Linked DNA regions of Homo sapiens: region 1 is linked to region 2. The links come from fine-mapping of genetic effects on gene expression. A gene starts in region 2. The other region holds a variant in brackets. All regions are shown on one strand. Distances are between the middles of the regions. Region 1 overlaps ARMC7 (armadillo repeat containing 7). Region 2 holds the start of JPT1 (Jupiter microtubule associated homolog 1).

The links. PIP is the estimated chance that this variant, and not a neighbour inherited with it, causes the effect. A credible set is the group of variants that fine-mapping cannot tell apart.
Region 1: its variant is the best candidate, but not a certain one, in a credible set for the expression of JPT1 in whole blood (TOPMed, PIP 0.65).

Annotation. Positions count from the first base shown.
Region 1 is chr17:75,125,339-75,129,722 of GRCh38, reverse strand. It overlaps ARMC7 (armadillo repeat containing 7), which reads right to left. Exons shown (of 3, transcript NM_024585.4): 3 at 1-1,046. The coding sequence ends at 685. Among named protein-coding and RNA genes, the nearest start is that of NT5C, 4.2 kb to the left of the region's middle. The variant C/T (reference allele first, on the strand shown) is at 2,234.
Region 2 is chr17:75,152,151-75,156,534 of GRCh38, reverse strand. JPT1 (Jupiter microtubule associated homolog 1) reads left to right here and starts at 2,023. Exons shown (of 5, transcript NM_016185.4): 1 at 2,023-2,193. The coding sequence starts at 2,138. RefSeq lists an enhancer at 940-1,535 and a silencer at 2,188-2,427.

The DNA.
Region 1 (4,384 bases), 27 kb after region 2:
TTGATGCCCGATGGCCACATTAAGTCCCTGGGCTGTCACTCAAGGGCAGGGACCACATCTTCATCTTGGAGTCATGGTGCCTAACAGCAAGGCTGGGTGGACAGTCAATGCTGGGCCACAGGTTATCCAGGTTGGCATCCACCAGGCCCAAATGCCCAGCTTGGAGAGCCCCTGGGGGAGGCATCCATCCTCCAGAGCCCTGGAGGGGGCACCACATCTTCCCAGGGTGAGATCCTTTCACCACGAGGCATCTCATTCCTATACCTGAAAACTACTCCAGACACTTCTGTTAAGGGATAATCCCTGATTTCCTGCAGCGAAGGCAGCTCTCCTAAGCCTCAGGCCCAGCTCCTGAGAACACTGTCCTGCAAAGCCTCTGGGTCCAGGCACTTGGCCGCTTCTTACACCAGGGCCTGAGTCTGGTGGTGGTGGCACCTGATGTAGGATTGAGAGTGCCAGCCTATGAACGCAGCTCCAGTTTGATCTTCTCCGTGTCTCTGGAGTCTGGCTTCCTCACTCCCAGTGGCGTTTCATCAGTGTAAATGCCTGTCCTGCTGAAAGAACCCGCCTTTCAGATGGCTGAAAAGGCACCAATGGGGCAGTATGTGCTCCCCGTTCCCTGCGTCCACATCAGGACTGTGGTCTCCAGCAGTAGGGGTGCCACGGTCTCGCAGTCTCCATGGATCAGCGCTGCCGTGGGGCCACGCTCCTCGGCAGTGGGATACCCAGGGCAGAGTGCGCCTGCCGGCTGCGGGCCTCGGCCACCTGGCGGGGGGAGCAGAAGTCCTCCAGGAAGATCTGTGCCAGGTTCCGGAGCCTGGCGCTGGCCGAGAGGGAGAAGCGAAGCATGCACTGCACCACGGGCGTGGCGGTCAGCTCTGGGAGAAAGCTGCGGCCCGGCGGGCTCAGGTGCATGAGCGTGGTGATGGCAGACAGCACCGTCTCCTCATTGGGGCTGGATAGGCAGTTGATGATGAGTGGGACACCTCCTGCGTGCAGGATGTGCTCCTTGTTGGCCCTGTCTGGGCACAGGTTGCACAGGCCTCCTGTGGGAGAGCAAGGAAGAGTCTGGATGCTGTAGCCCCGGGCCTCCTCCCACCTCCCCTGCCCGTGAGCCCCAGGTAGGGGCCCAGGCTGTTGAGAAGCTGGCCCCAGCACAAGGCATCCAAAGCCCATTCCGGCTCCTGCCTTCTCAAGTTTCCAGAAAGGCCTGCCTGCCTGCTCCAGCCTGCCACAGCCCACCCTTCCAGAAGTGGGCACAAATCCCTTTCCCTCTCAGTTCAGCAAGTTCAATGGCTGATACGCTTTTTTTTTCCCCTTTCTTAAATGTAAAAACCTAAAACAAGGCCGGCCCGGGCACGGTGGTTCACGCCTGTAATCCCAGCACTTTGGAAGGCTGAAGTGAGTGGATCACCTGAGGTCACGAGTCCGAGACCAGCCTGGCCAACATGGTGAAACTGTCTCTACTAAAAATACAAAAATTAGCCGGGTGTGGTGGCAGGTGCCTGTAATCCCAGCTACTTGTGAGGCTGAGGCAGGAGAATTGCTTGAACCTGGGACTCGGAGGTTGCAGTGAGCCGAGATTGCATCACTGCACTCCAGCCTGGGCAACAGAGCTAGACTCTGTCTCAGAAATAAATAAATAAATAAAAAACTAAAACCCTGTAATGTATCATCACCTTAGAACAGTTTATAAAAGTTATAAAAATATAAGATGATGGTTTCATGGGTATATACTTATGCCAAAATTTATCAAATTGTACCCTTTAAATATGTACAGTTTATTATGTCCATCATATAGCAATAAAACTGTTAAAATACTAGAATGGGCTGGGCACAGTGGCTCACACCTGTAATTCCAGTGCTTTGGCAGGCCAAGGCAGGAGGATCCCTTGAGCCCAGGAATTCGAGACCAGCCTTGGCGACATGGCAAAACTCTGTCGCTACCAAAACACACACAATTAGCCAGGCATGATGGTACACGCCTGTAGTCTCAGCTACTTGAGAGGCTGAGGTGGGAGGACTGCTTGGGCCCACGAAGTGGAGCTGCAGTAAGCCATGAACGCACCACTGCACTCCAGCCTGGGCGACAGAGTGAGACCCTGTCTCAAAAACAAACAAATGGCTGGGAGCGGTGGCTCACGCCTATAATCCCAGCACTTTGGGAGGCCGAGGTGGGTGGATCACCCTGAGGTCAGGAGTTCCAGACCAGCCTGGCCAACATGGTGAAACC[C/T]CGTCTCTACTAAAAACACAAAAATTAGCTGGGCCTGTGGCACATGCTTGTAATCCCAGCTACTTGGGAGGCTGAGGCAGAATAGCTTGAACCCGGTAGGTGGAGGTTGCCGAGATGGCACCACTGCATTCCAGCCTGGGCAACAGAGCAAATACTACGTCTCAATGTTAGGCGGCTGACCTAACATTTGTTTTTCATTCTACAATTTGAAATATGTGAATATATGTAAGTATTTAGTAAAAATGGGATACTCTGCTTGCTGCTTGGTCAGTTTTCTGAGATGGGGTGGGATCTCCCTATGTTGTCCAGTCTGGTCTTGAACTTCCGGCTTTAAGCCATCCTTCTGCCTCAGCCTCCCTGGGAGTTAAGACTGACTCCAGGCATGCACCACTGTGCATGGCTTACGCCAGCTTTTTTTTTTTTTTTTTTTGAGACAGTTTTGCCCTGTTGCCCAGGCTAGAGTGCAGTGGCATGATCGCGGCTCATTGCAACCTCCGCCTCCCGGGTTCAAGTGATTCTCCTGCCTCAGCCTCCCAAGTAGCTGGGATAACCGGCATGTGCCACCATGCCCGGCTAAATTTTTGTATTTTTAGTAGAGACGGGGTTTCACCATGTTGGCCAGGCTGGTCTCGAACTCCTGACCTCAGGTGTTCCACCCGCCTCGGCCTCCCAAAGTGCTGGGATTACAGGCATGAGCCACTGTGCCCCGCCCAGCTTTTTTCATTTACCAATATATTGTGATTAGCGGGGCATGGTTGAGCACACCTATAGTCCCAGCTACTAGGGAGGCTTAGGCAGGAGAGTTGCTTGAACCCAGGAGGCTGAGGTTGCAATGAGCTGAGATTGCGCCATTGCACTCCAGCCTGAGCAAACGAGTGAAACTCCATCTCAAAAAAAAAAAACAAAAACAAAAAAACAATGTATTGTGAACATCTTTCCATGCCAATAAATTCACATTCATGGCTATGCAGTGATTGTAGATTAATGGTAAGGAGTGTACCATTTGACAGATATAGTGTAATTAAGAGAATAGAGCATTTTAATGTTATTTCCATGTCACCGTTACTAGGATTCTGGGGGAAAACAGAAAAGGCAACAGTGACAGATCAGTGGTTCTGGATCAAAGAACTCACGTGCTCAGGTAATGTGGCTGGAATCCCACTCCCATTCCCTCAAGTCAGGCCCCCTCAATGTAATGACCTCTTAGCCTTGGGGACAGATGCTACCTTGTTTTGGAGGTCACTCTGCTCAGCACTGGCTGCTCCCTGCGGGAAGATGACTTCCTGTGCATCCTGAGCTTCCTGTCATCACGGTACCCCTCCCTTTGGTTCCTGCTCAGTGGAGGAAGCCACCTCTCAGCTCATTTGCAAAACATGCCCAGTGTCCTGAGTGACCAATCAGTGAAGGCCACAGCTCTACCCACTTCCCCTGTTTTTCTGGAAACTAACAAAGAGAAGACTTACCTGAACCTGAAACCCAACTAAGACATCTTCCCCAGCCAGAGGGACAGGTGCCCATGGTGCCCCCGCCAAGGACCCTCCTCCACTGACTGGGGCAGGAGTCTGCCAAGGTTTCACTCTGCTGCCTGCTCCCAAGCAGCACCTGGGTCAGGCTGGTCCTGCTTTGAGGGAACCTTTTTTATTTTTGAGATGGAGTTTCACTCTTTCACCCAGGCTGGAGTGAAGTGGCGCGATCTCGGCTCACTGCAACCTCCGCCCCACCAGGTTCAAGTGATTCTCTTGCCTCAGCCTCCCAAGTAGCTGGGATTACAGGTACATGCCACCACACCTGGCTAATTTTTTTTTTGTATTTTTAGTAGAGACAGGGTTTCGCCATGTTAGCCAGGCTGGTCTTAAACTCTTGACCTCAGGTGATCCACCCATCTTGGCCTCCCAAAGTGCTAGGATTACGGGTGTGAGCCACCGTGCCCAGCTGGGGGAACATTATTAAAGGATCCCACTGCATGTGGAGTAAATTCCAGATGTCCGTGTGCTCCTTACCCCTGAGCCGTCCTGTCTGTTCTTCCCTCTCCCTGGCACTCATTGCAGTCTCCAACCTCAGTCCATCCCTGAGACCTTTCAGCCCCCAGTTGTCACACACTGACACCCTCTTGCTGGTAACAAGCCCTCCACTGCTCTCCTTGCAAGTGGC
Region 2 (4,384 bases):
ATCCTGGCTAACACGGTGAAACCCCATCTCTACTAAAAATACAAAAATTAGCCAGGCATGGTGGTGGGCGCCTGTAGTCCCAGCTACTTGGGAGGCTGAGGCAGGAGAATGGCGTGAACCCGGGAGGCGGAGCTTGCAGTGAACCGAGATTATGCCACCGCACTCCAGCCTGGGCGACAGAGCGAGACTCTGTCTCAAAAAAACGAAAACAACAACAACAAAAAAAGAAAGAATGGGAAGATTGGCTGGGCGTGCGGTGGTTCACACCTGTAATCCCAGCACTTTGGGAAGCCAAGGTGGGTGGATCACGAGGTCAGGAGATTGAGACCATGCTGGCTAACATGGTGAAACTCCATCTCTACTAATAAACTACAAAAAATTAGCCGGGCATGATGGCACGCACCTGTAGTCCTAGCTACTCGGGAGGCTGAGGCAGGAGAATCGCTTGAACCCGGGAGGTGGAGGCTGCAAGTGAGCAGAGATCGCGCCACCACTGCACTCCAGCCTGGGCGACAGAGCAAGACTCTGTCTCAAAAAAAAAAAAAAAAAGCTAAGATTTTGGCTAGATGCGGTGGCTTACACCTGTAATCCCAGCACTTTGGGAGGCCAAGGAGCATGGATCACCTGAGGTCAGGAGTTTGAGACCAGCCTGGCCAATATGGTGAAACGCCGTCTCTACTAAAAATACAAAAATTAGTCAGGGGTGGTGGCGCACGCCTGTAGTTCCAGCTATTACGGAGGCTGAGGCAGGAGAATCGCTTGAACCTGGGAGGTGGAGGTTGCATTGAGCGCCATTGCACTCTAGCCTGGGTGACAAGAGCGAAACTCCACTTCAAAAACAAAAAAAAAAAAGAAAGGAAAAAAAGAAGGGAAGATTCTAACACAAACAAGTGGTGCGCTTCGTGCTGTTGTGGTAAGCACATAAATGCATCATCCGTGCTTTCTAGAACAGAACTTCTCACTGGCTTTTCATGAAAGCCCGGGGGGGGAGGGTGGTTAACCTAGACTGCCCAGAATACAAACTTCCAACTACCTGAAAGGTGGCTTTGCAAAGAGGAATGTGGTTCAATTATTATGGAAATATTGAGACAAGCAAAGACATCTGCCTTGAGGAAATATGCAAGACATGAGAAGGGCCTGCCCTCTTTTGCCCAAGGCTTTCCTATTATGATCTTGTAAACCATCATTCCTGAATCCTCCAAGTGTGTCTGCATTTGTCGCATGGATAGATTTACCCAGACAGGTGGAAGAGTCATGACTTAAGGGTTATAAACAGCTGCAGAGGCCTGAGCTGCTTCCATAGTCTTGGTAGCAGGGAATGAGTCCATTCCTGGTGCCAGGCATTAACCAGCCTTAGAATAGGCCCCCAAATAGGAGCGACTGTAATTTTGGTCCAGTACATGCACCACCCATTACAACTAAACAGTAACATTAAAATGTAAGGAATTTCCAGTCCTTTTAAAAGGGATCATCTTGGTGCGCTCTCTGTTGCTGACTCATTGTGCGGCTGCTTTGAGACTATTAGGTTTCTAAATGGGACACACAGTAGGTATTCAACAGATAAATGTCAACTTGTTGCAGTACTTTTCATCCTTTAAGGAGGATGCCCTTACTATCCCACCATCAGTAAAGCAAATGAGAGAACAGTAACAGTGACAAATCTCCCTTCTGCTTGCCGAGGTTGTAACTCCCCAAGAAAGAGCTTCCCCCTCTGTCAGGTAACGTTTTACAGTGACAGCCAGCACGACTTCCACCCAGCGCGAGGTAGATTCGCCTTCCGTCCAATCATCGCCGAGATTTTGGGGTGGGGGAGGGGAGAGAGTCCCAAGGCCTTCCCAGTCCAGGAAGGGGGCGGGCTTAGGCTGAGCCGTGGCCGCCACAGCCCATCGTAATGCCGCATGGTGCTTGGCACTCCAGAGAGCCAATAGGAATGAAAGAATTCATTTGAATCGGCCAATGCCGGCGGGTTAGGGGGCGGGGGTTGAAAACCCTATAAAGGCGTCGATCGGCCGGACAGGCGGCAGCGGCGGCTCCTGCAGCGGTGGTCGGCTGTTGGGTGTGGAGTTTCCCAGCGCCCCTCGGGTCCGACCCTTTGAGCGTTCTGCTCCGGCGCCAGCCTACCTCGCTCCTCGGCGCCATGACCACAACCACCACCTTCAAGGGAGTCGACCCCAACAGCAGGAATAGCTCCCGGTGAGGCGACCGGGTCGCGCCCGAGCCGCGCGGGGCTGAGGGGCTGGGAGGGCCGCTGCCGGCGGGGCCTCGCGCCGGTCGTTGCGGGTAACGAGCCCCGTGCGCTGTGCTCGCGCCGGGGCGGGTGGCGGGGTTCTGCCGTCGGCGCCGCCTTTGTGCCGCCTGGCGAGCCCTGCGCGCCGGCCCCACCCGGGTCCCTGCTGCTCTCCATTCATTCCTTCCACGGAGTCAGGGGCTGAGGAGGCCGGGGCTGGTCGCCCCTCGGAGCACGGCCGGTTTTCGTTAATCGGAACCTTCGGGGAGGGCTTCGCTTTCTCCTGTGTGCATCCCGGCTGGTGCATCCCCAGGGTGGTGGGCTTGGCCCCCCAGGTGCCCGGGGATCCTTTAGGGCCCCATGCATGGTCAGGTCCTATTGTCCCATTGATGGGCCACGCGCTCCTGTCTCTCCCCCGTGGCATGCGGTTGGTCTCGCTCTCGCGCGCAGCCATTGGATCCGGAGACCGGATCGATCAGGTCCGGCGGGCTCCTTACCCTCGCCGTGCCCCCACTCCTTATTCGGACCTACCTGACAGGTGCATGTGTGGTCGAGCGGGGCTGGTCATCGCGACCCTTCACCCCCCATTGAGGACCCAATCGTTCTTCCCCTCTTCGAAGTGCCTCCCCTCTTCCAAGTGTCTCCCCTTCCTAACAAAGGAAAGACCCCTTCTCCCCATCCCTGCGCTCATTTCTAAGGCGGGGGGCGGGGGCGGGCGCGGGGAACGAGCCAACCCGAGTGGGTTTTCTGCGCTTAAACCTTCGGACCGTGGCCTTTGCATCCTACCTTCGCTTCCTCCTTTGACGTTTGCCCAGTGAGTTCATCCCTGGCCCTGGTTCCCTTGCAGGAGGAGGTTTCTTGTTCTTGGGCGGGGCCGGAGACATCCATTGTCTCTAACGTGGTAGCGCTACCTGGGAAGCGGGGGATTTTTCTTGCCCTTCTTCCCACTGCTTTTTGGGCTTGGGGCACTGGGTACAGTGTTTGGACAGGAACCCTTTTCCAAGTCCTTGCTTAACTTACTTGGTGGAAGGGTTTGGATTCTGTGGAAGGTGTCCACATTGTCTCAGCTAATTGCACACTGTTCTTTAAGGTGGGTTACAGTTATGTCTGGGATCCTCTTCAAGGCTTGGAAGAAGCTTAAATCACTTTTTTGAGCATGTATTTTACATCGATTATGACCTGCATTCATGTGTGGCTACCCTCGGGGTCCTGGCCAAGTGGCACAAAGGGAGCCATTTTGTGGGGCTAAGAAGACACGTGAAATAGCCATATCTCACAGGGGTTAGAGAACTTGGGAACAAAAAGCACGCCTCACTCAGCAATTGAGCCTTAGGAGGAAAGCATGGGAAATGACATTCCTTTACAACTCAATACTTTCAGGTTTACAAGGTCAAAAAGACTAGGTAAGATTAAAAAAATAAATTGGTGATTACTGGGAGGATGGGGTACTTAAGTAGCACAGACCTAGGAAACTGGTCGCTCCCTTTCTGTTTTCTTTCCAATGAGATGATTTCTTCAGAGAACAGGAAGAGATTGAGCCTTGGTTTTTCATTTTGTGTTACGAGGCCAACTTTCTGCCGGTTAGACTTCAGTCGTCGGAATGATAATGTGTAATCTGGGGTTTTATTCTTTGGGGTTGAGTTGATATTAGTGTTTTGTAAAGAATTTCAGTAATTAGGTCAAATGAATCCTCACACTTAGTTTTTCATGTGTACATTTGAAATGTGAGACAAATGAGTTCTGATCCTGTGAAATGAATGTTTAATTCACCTTTCGTCATCAATTTCCCTCCAATATTATGCTCTAGGGACTGTAGTAGCATTGTCATTTTATTGTCTCTCTACCTTCCCTTTTTCTATATTCTCACCTAATTCTCATAAACTTAATTTTGTCCAGTAATGTTCTCCTGGCCCCATAAACTCGTTATAAATTTAGTCTGGTAGGGAATGATCTGCAAAGATATACAGAAACTTCAGGATTTTAAGAGAGAAGAAAGAAAAGGAGCAATTTTTTAAAAATTGCTATTTACAGTACATGGACACATTTTTGTTCAGTCTTAAATATATAATCCTGATTTAGTTGTCGTGTATGATTCTGAAAGAATAGTAGGATCCTAAAACATTGAGATACTTTCTGCCTTATGATCTACATCCTTTG